Linked DNA regions of Homo sapiens: region 1 is linked to region 2. Evidence: fine-mapped expression QTL. A gene starts in region 2. The other region holds a variant in brackets. All regions are shown on one strand. Distances are from middle to middle. Region 1 has its middle 11 kb from the start of WDR20. Region 2 holds the start of HSP90AA1 (heat shock protein 90 alpha family class A member 1).

The links. PIP is the estimated chance that this variant, and not a neighbour inherited with it, causes the effect. A credible set is the group of variants that fine-mapping cannot tell apart.
Region 1: its variant is the best candidate, but not a certain one, in a credible set for the expression of HSP90AA1 in fibroblasts (GTEx, PIP 0.54).

What each region holds. Positions count from the first base shown.
Region 1 is chr14:102,126,630-102,131,146 of GRCh38, forward strand. It overlaps a transcript of HSP90AA1 not described here. Among named protein-coding and RNA genes, the nearest start is that of WDR20, 11 kb to the right of the region's middle. The variant A/G (reference allele first, on the strand shown) is at 2,659.
Region 2 is chr14:102,085,486-102,089,485 of GRCh38, forward strand. HSP90AA1 (heat shock protein 90 alpha family class A member 1) reads right to left here and starts at 1,559. Exons shown (of 11, transcript NM_005348.4): 1 at 1,501-1,559; 2 at 732-893; 3 at 273-639. The coding sequence starts at 893. RefSeq lists silencers at 1,147-1,436, 1,477-2,006, 2,067-2,116.

The DNA.
Region 1 (4,517 bases), 41 kb after region 2:
TTCTCTTGCCTCAGCCTCAAGAGTAGCTGAGACTACAGGCGCCCGCCACCACGCCCGGCTAACTTTGTTTTTGTACTTTTAGTAGAGATGGGGTTTCACGGTGTTAGCCAGAATGGTCTCGATCTCCTGACCTCGTGATCTGCCCGCCTAGGCCTCCCAAAGTCCTGGGACTACAGGCGTGAGCCACTGCGCCCGGCCGACTAGATTCTTTTAATATCATAAACTGTGTTTTTGTTTTCCCAATCAGTAACTCCTAAAATGAATTTTTAAATTAACAAATGAATCTTACTTCCTGCCACAGGCCCCAGCTACTACTTTACAGCAATCTATGGCTAAAAATCACTGTTTTACTGGCTGCTTCTCAAAAGGCCAATAATGCTGATGAGGCTCTTCAGAGAGTGAGAAGTACTTTTTTTTTTTTTTTAAATCACCTCTTCATAGCCTCCTCCCAATAAGTACTTATAATTATATATAAGTAACAAGTTAATTTTTTCTTTACATATAGCATACTAGCTCTTTAAAAAATCTCATCTTTCCTGTTTCAGGATCTCAGATAGAAAAAAGTTAGGAACTGTTATTGAGGCTATTAAGCTTGAACGTCCTTGCTCTAATCTTTGCAAAGATAAAACCCACAATGCTCATTAAGCTGCTTGGATAAGCTGTTGTTTTACTTCTTACTGGAGGAGCTTAACAATGAAAAACAAAGCTAGCATGAGTTCTATCTACAAAAAGTGATGTCCTAATTTGAATTCAGTTCTAACATACTGTAATAATTCAATTAGTTCTGTGACTGAGGCAGAATGTCCCAGCCTTATGACAGTTCTCTTATTTTCTTCCTGTATTTTCCCTTTATTACTATGGTTTGGAACCCACATTTCAGTCTTATCCCTAGAGTCTAAGATAATTAAAATAGCACACATGGAGTTATATTTATTTGAGGGGGTAGGAGACAGCTGTGACTCTTTCAAGGCTGGGACTGGAGACAGTAAGCAATAGGCAGAGGTGTTTTGTTTTATTATATATATACACATACATTTTTTGAGTCAAGGTCTTGTTCTGTGGCCCAGGCTGGAATGCAGTGTTATGAACACAGCTCACTGCAGCCTCAACTTTCTGGGCTCAAGCGATCCTCCCAACTCAGCCTCCCGAGTAGCTGGGACTACAAGTGTGTGTTGCCACGCCTGGCTAACCTTATTTTTATAGAGACAGGGCCTTGCTATGTTGCCAGGTTGGTTGTGACCTCTTGGGCTCTAGCTATCCTCTTGCCTCGGCCTCCCAAAGTGCTGGGATTATAGGTGTGAGCCACCACACCAGCCATGTTTTGTTTTTAATTGGAGAAAGAAGCAATTCTATTAACAATTACCAACACACTGCCAAACTCTCAAGCAGAAATGAACATTGGTTCTTCTGTGCTGCTCTCTTCTTTGCTCAGCAGGCTCATACTACATGGGAGGAGGCAGTGCAGTGTGGGAGTCTGCCCAGGAGAAACAGTAACTTGCTGCTGGAGCAGGGTGTCCTAGAGGAGACCAGGAATTTGTTACAAGAACATGGTGGAGAAATTGATCTTGAAAAGAAGAGGTGGCTGGGCACGGTGGCTCACACTTGTAATGCCAGCACTTTGGGAGGCCGAGGTGGGTGGATCACTTGAGGTCAGCAATTCAAGACCAGCCTGACCAACATGGTGAAACCCCGTCTCTACCCAAAATACAAAAATTAGGATGGGCGCAGTGGCTCACGCCTGTAATCCCAGAACTTTGGGAGGCCGAGGTGGGTGGATCACCTGAGGTCAGGGGTTCGAGACCAGCCTGGCCAACATGATGAAACCCCATCTCTACTGAAAACACAAAAAATTAGCTGGGCATGGTGGCGGGCGCCTGTAATCCCAGCTACTCGGGAGGCTGAGGCAGGAGATTGCTTGAACCCAGGAGGCAGAGGTTGCAGTAAGCCAAGATCGCACCATTGCACTCTAGCCTGGGCAGTAAGAGCAAAACTCCGTCTCGGAAAAAAAAAAAAAAAAAAAAAATTAGCCGGGTGTGATGGTGCATGCCTGTAGTACCAGCTACTCAGGAAGCTGAGACAGTGAATTGCTTGAACCCAGGAGGCGGAGGTTACAGGGAGCTGAGATCATGCCACTGCATTCCAGCGTGAGCCATATAGCGACACTCCATCTTAAGAAAAAAGAAAGAAAAGAAGAGAAGAGGTACTTCTTCTTTTAACCTAGAAGAATAAGAATGGGTTCAGATAGAGATAAGAAGGGAGGTATAAGTTGGAAGGTAAGAAATGAGAAAGGTTTATGCCTTACGGTGATTCCCAAGTTTTCTTGGTTCTCAGAGCCCTTAGTGTTTCAGAATTTCTTTATGGCGCTCCCTGGACCAATAGAAAAATCTAACAGTTCCATTTACCAGGTACAGTTCAAACAACCTAATAAGTAGTTATGCCTGGATAATTTAGCAGCTGTTTGAAAAATAAATTGAGCACTATAGATAGAGTGGCTCTAGTTTTGATTTTTTTTTTTTTTTTTTTTTGAGACGGAGTCTCACTCTGTCGCCCAGGCTGGAATGCAGTGGGGCAATCTCAGCTCACTGCAACCTCTGCCTCCAGGGTTCAAGCAATTCTCCTGTCAGCCTCCCGAGATTACTACAGGGGATTACTACAGGC[A/G]TGTGCCACCACGCCCACCTGGCTAGGTTTGATTTTTTTTAACTGCACATATAATTCACCCAACGACTATTATTCAGTGGTTTCTGGTATATTCAGAACTGTGCAATTATCACCTCTAAAAGAAACCCTGGGCTCATTAGCAGTCACGACTCCTTCCCTGTCATTTCCCCATCCCTAGGCTACCACAAATCTACTTTCTGTCTCTATACTACATTCCTTTTTTTTTTTTTTTTGAGTTGGAGTCTTGCTGTGTCGCCCAGCCTAAAGTGCAGTGGCTTGATCTCAGCTCACTGCAGCCTCCGCCTCCCGGGTTCAAGCAATTCTCCTGCCTCAGCCTCTCGAGTAGCTAGAATTACAGGTGCACGCCACCATTCCCAGCTAATTTTTGTATTTTTTTAGTAGAGACGAGGTTTCACCGTGTTGGCTAGGCTGGTCTCGAACCCCTGACCATGTGATCTGCCTGCCTTGGCCTCCCAAAGTGCTGGGATTACAGGCGTGAGCCACCACGCCCGACAACTACATTCCTTTCTATCATAGCTGATTAATATTCCATTGTATGGATATACCACATTTTGTTTATCCATTCATTAGTTGATGGGCATTTGGTTTGTTTCCACTTTTTGGCTATTTTGAATAATGCCGCTGTGAACATTCACGTATAAGTTTTTGTGTGAAATTTTTTTTTTGTTTTGTTTTGTTTTGAGATGGAGTCTCGCTCTGTCGCCCAGGCTGAAGTGCAATGGTGTGATCTCGGCTCACTGCAACCTCCGCCTCCTGGGTTCAAGCGATTCTCCTGCCTCAGCCTCCTGAGTAGCTGGGATTACAGGCCCGCACCACCACACCTGGCTAATTTTTGTATTTTTAGTACAGACGCAATTTCACCACGTTGGTGAGGCTGGTCTCGAACTCCTGACCTCATGATCCACCTGCCTCGGCCTCCCAAAACGCTGGGATTACAGACATGAGCCACTGCGCCCGGCCGTGTGAATATGTTTTGATTTCTCTTGGGTATATACATACGATTGGAATTGCTGGGTCCTATGGTAACTGTTGAAACTTTTACGGAACTGCCAGACTATTTTCCATATTGGCTATATTACTTTTCCTTCCTATCTGCAGTACATGGGGGTTTAAATTTCTCCACATTCTCACCAACACTTGTTATTGTTTATCTTTTTGATTATAGCCATCCTAGTGTATATGAAGTGACATCTCCTTGTGGTTTTAATTTGCATTTCCCTGATGGCTAATAATGTTGTGAATCTTTTCACGTGCTCCCTGGCCATTTGTGTAACTTTGCAGAAATGTCTATTCAGATCCTTTGTCCATTCTCTTTTTTTGACAGGGTCTTGCTCTGTTGCTCAGGCTGGTGTGCAGTGGTGTGATCATAGCTCCAGTTTTATAGTTTTAATTCTTACATTTAGGTCTTTAATTCATTCTGAGTTAATTTTTGTTTTTTTGAGACAGGGTCTCCCTCTGTTGCCCAGGCTGGAGTGTAGTGGTGCAATCACAGCTCACTGTAGCCTCAACCTCCTGGGCTCAAGTGATCCTCCTGCCTGAGCCTCCTAGGATTGCTAGAATACACCACCACGCTAATTTTTAAATTTTTTTTGTAGAGACAAGGTCTCACCATATTGCCCAGGCTGGTCTTGAACTTCTGGGTTCAAGTGATCCTCCTGCCTCAGCCTCCCAAGGTATTGGGATTACAGGCATAAGCCACCATGCCCAGCCTATCCAGGCTTTAAATACTACCTATCTGCTGATAACTGCAGAATACAGATGGGCAGCTCAGACCTCTTTCCAGACTTGATTATTCAACTGCCTTCTGGACATTCCCTGTGAATGCCTGATATCTCATA
Region 2 (4,000 bases):
CATGCCTAACACCCTTATAACGTGTCTATAAAGCAAGGTTTGCCGTTACTACAGATGCAAAGGCCACCACAGCAGAACCTTTTGGGCAAGGTGCCTCGCCCAAAAGAACCGCCCACCAAGTCATGCCATTACACTAATTAAGTGCTCTAGCTTGTTCCTGATCGTTGGGCAAACACAAATTCTGTAAGCTTCACCGCATCCCCAGGGGTCCAAGGGTTGCAGCACCCCACCCTTCCACCGCTCACTTAACCAGTGAATGTTCAGGTGCCTACCTGTGTCTGTCCTCACTGTGAATGATCCCCCTGCTGAGGACTCCCAAGCGTACTGCTCATCATCGTTATGTTTGGTGATCACAGTTACTTTCTCAGCAACCAAATAAGCAGAATAAAAACCAACACCGAACTGGCCAATCATAGAGATATCTGCACCAGCCTGCAAAGCTTCCATGAACGCTTTGGTCCCAGACTTGGCGATAGTACCAAGGTTATTGATCAAGTCAGCCTTGGTCATTCCAATTCCAGTATCCACAATAGTGAGAGTTCGATCTTGTTTGTTCGGTATAAGGTTAATATGCAGCTCTTTCCCAGAGTCTAATTTACTGGGATCTGTCAAGCTTTCATACCGGATTTTGTCCAATGCCTGTTAACAAAAAATATTAATTTAAGCATACAGCACCCCCAAGAAGTTCACACTGAAACCAAAATCCGATTCTGGGTTAATAAGTGACTTACATCTGATGAATTTGAAATGAGCTCTCTCAGAAAGATCTCTTTGTTCGAGTAGAAAGTATTGATGATCAATGACATCAACTGGGCAATTTCTGCCTGAAAGGCGAACGTCTCAACCTCCTCCTCCTCCATCGGTTGGTCTTGGGTCTGGGTTTCCTCAGGCATCTGGAACGACACCGCGCCGGTTTAAAACCTTGCAGGACGTCTACAGAGGCAACACGAAATTCCATCGCGTTCTCCAAATATTTTTAAAGCCGAATTGGAGATTTGCGAAGTTTAAGTAAACCGAAAATAGAAGGGCGGCTGACAAAGGATGACCTCATTTCGGAGCGCGGCAACTACCACGAGCGTGTGCGCGCTTCCGGGAGGCCGCCGCAGGCCCGGGCCCAGTCCCCCGCCGCGGTCCCCAACGAACACCCCGGGTGCCCTCCCGCGCGGGCTGCGGCTCCGCCACGGCGGCCTCCTCCGCCTGCGCCCCCAGCGGGGCCGGGCGGGGGACCCCCGCGGCGGGGCCGCTCTGTTCGCGTGCGGCGCCAGCTCTGGCGCTGCTGCAGAGCCTCGGGGAGCCCGCGGCCGCCCGGCCCATTCCTGAAGCGGGGTGCGGAAACCGCAGCGGTCCCGAGGCCTCCGGAATAGAAAGCGCGGCCGCCCGGGAGCGCGGCCCTGGCTGCTTCAGGGATCTGGTCCGGCCCCCACAGCCTCCGCCCCGCGCCAGCCGCCCCCAGTCCCGGTCCCCAGTCCACCTCCACAGGCCCCCACAACCACCCGTCACCTTGGCTAAGTGACCGCACAGGACCAACGGCACAGCCACACCGGGACGCTGAAGCAACTGACGCGCCACCCCCGCGCCTGCCTTATATAGCGACGGGCCCGCCCAGCGCGCGGCGCTTTTTCCAGAAGCCTCCCGAACCTTCCGGAAGAACCCTCCCCAGCCGCCGCCGCGGCCGCGCGCCTACGCATGCGCCGTTGCCGCGGCACCCCGCCCCCGCGCCTTCCTGCGGGCGCGCGCAGGCCCTGCTCGTGGCCCGGCCCGGGCAACCTTCCCTCAATCGCCGCCGCGCGCCTCTCGCACGCCCCCGCGCCGGCCTCAATGCGCCTGCGCGGCCCGGAATTCTCGGGAAGGTCCGGGCGCCTTCTGGGGCCGCCCGCGCCCTCCGCCCTGCACCCCCACCTGCCGCGGGCGGGCGGAGGGCACGCCCGGGCGTGGGGGCCTTTGAAGTGAGGTGTAGTTGGTCACCCGGGCTGAGCGGAACGCGGGGCCGGGGTGGGAGGCGCGCCTGGAGGGAGGGTCGTGCGTGGACGGAGAGCGGCCCGGGTCTCACGCGCCCGGGAGACTTCCGGAGCCGTCGTCCTGACTGGCGCCGCGCCCGCTGCCAAAGAATCCAGCCGCAAGCGGCGCCGGGATCGCGGGGCTCTGCCCTCTGGGGGCTGTTAGCCTCAGGCTGCTGCGCACTGGGGAGGCTGTCCCGCGGCCTGCGCGCTCGGGGATTCTCCAGACCCACCGCTGGCTCGGGAGCGCTCCCTACTTTTGGGTTCCCCGAAAGCCATGTGCTTCATACTTAAGGGTCCCTTAGCTTGGGAATCGGGGACTTGGTGAACAAATTCATGCTTACCCAGCTACACCCGGCATGATTTTGAAAAGCCCATCGTTTTGCCGACCGATTTGCGGTCTCCAAATTAAGTATCTAACACTTTGGTGATTAACTTGCCCTAAAAGGTTTTTTTTTTTTTTTTTTTCTTTTTTTTTTTTTTGGACAGGCTCTCGCTTTGTCGCCCAGGCTGGGGTGCCGCGGCGGAATCTCGGCTCACTGCAGCCTCGACCCTCCCGGGCTCAGGTGATCCTCCCGCCTCAGCTTTCCCAGTAGCTGGGACGAGCGTGGGCAGAGGACCACAGGCGCGGACACCACACCTGTCTAGTTTTTGTATTTATTTGTAGAGTCGGGGTTTCACCATGTTGCCCAGGCTGGAAAAGCCAGTTTCTACATGGGAATTTTCGGATATTTTGGCCAAGGCCAGCTGTGGGAACCTTGGAGGCATTGGGGTTCCTTCGACCTGGCTTCCCTGCCTAGTCCATGTCCTCTTCCTCTTTGTCTCTGGCGCCTCCCATGATTGGGCCGCCTCCTGCCTAGACTCATAGCCAGGCCCTCGGAATAATCTGAAAGCTCCTTGCCGTGTAAAGAAACGATGGAACTACCTCCGCTTCCTGGTCTTTAGGGAAACGCAACTTGCTCAGGAGCAGGGGTTTTCAGACTGCGGCCTGGGACCCCCTTAAGAGCGTGTGAAATCAACATAAAGCGTCTTGCCTGGCATTACAAAGCGGGGGAAGTGGAAGGAAACTAGCAGCCACGTGGCGCGGGCCCCAGCGGTGGTGACCGGGTGTGTGCCTGGTCCTGTGGTAGCTGTTGCGCAGCCTGGGGGCGCGCCCCCGGCCCAGGCTTTCCTACAGCTGCAGCCTGGACTGGCGGGGAGGAATCCGGAAGCAGGAAGAGCGGTGAGCGGGTCGCTGAAGGGGCGCAAGGTCTTCCCTGGCGACTGCCGCCTTTGCCTGTTTCCTTCCTGTCACCACCAGCCACTGTCCCCGCTCTCCTCACTTGTAGGAACTTTTCCTACCGCAGTTTCTGCCATTGCCCAGGGGGTTTGAGATATAGAGGAGCCATCCAGGGCCCTAACTCTGACGTTCTTTTTTTTCTTTTCTTTTTTTTTTTTTTTTAGACAAAGTCTCACTCTTGGTCCCCCAGGCTCGAGGGCAATGGCACAATCTCTGCTCACTGCAACCTGCTCACTGCAACCTCTACCTCCTGGGTTCAAGCGATTCTCCTGCCTTAGCCTCCCGAGTAGCTGGGATTACAGGCACCCACCACTACGCCCGGCTAATTTTTGTATTTTTAGTAGAGACGGGGTTTCACCATGTTGGCCAGGCTGGTCTCGAACCCGTGACCTCAGGTGATCCGCCCGCCTCGGCCTCCCAAAGTGCTGGGATTACAGGCGTGAGCCACGGCGCCCGGCCAGCTCTGACATTCTTTGTCCTTTGTTTTGGGGACCTTCATTTACCCCCATTTCTCCAGTGAACCTGCTCCAAAGCCCCTCCCTGGGTCTGGGCATCACTGGGAACCACTGTTTCCCGTCAGGCCCCATCTTTAATGTCCCTTCTTCCTTCCACAACTTCTTGTCTTTCCAGCTCTCCCCCCTCGGTTAATAAACAGGACATTTTTGTCCTGTCTCCAGGTGACATTCCACAGTTACCCACCAGGTGCGAACTCTGTAATGGTTTC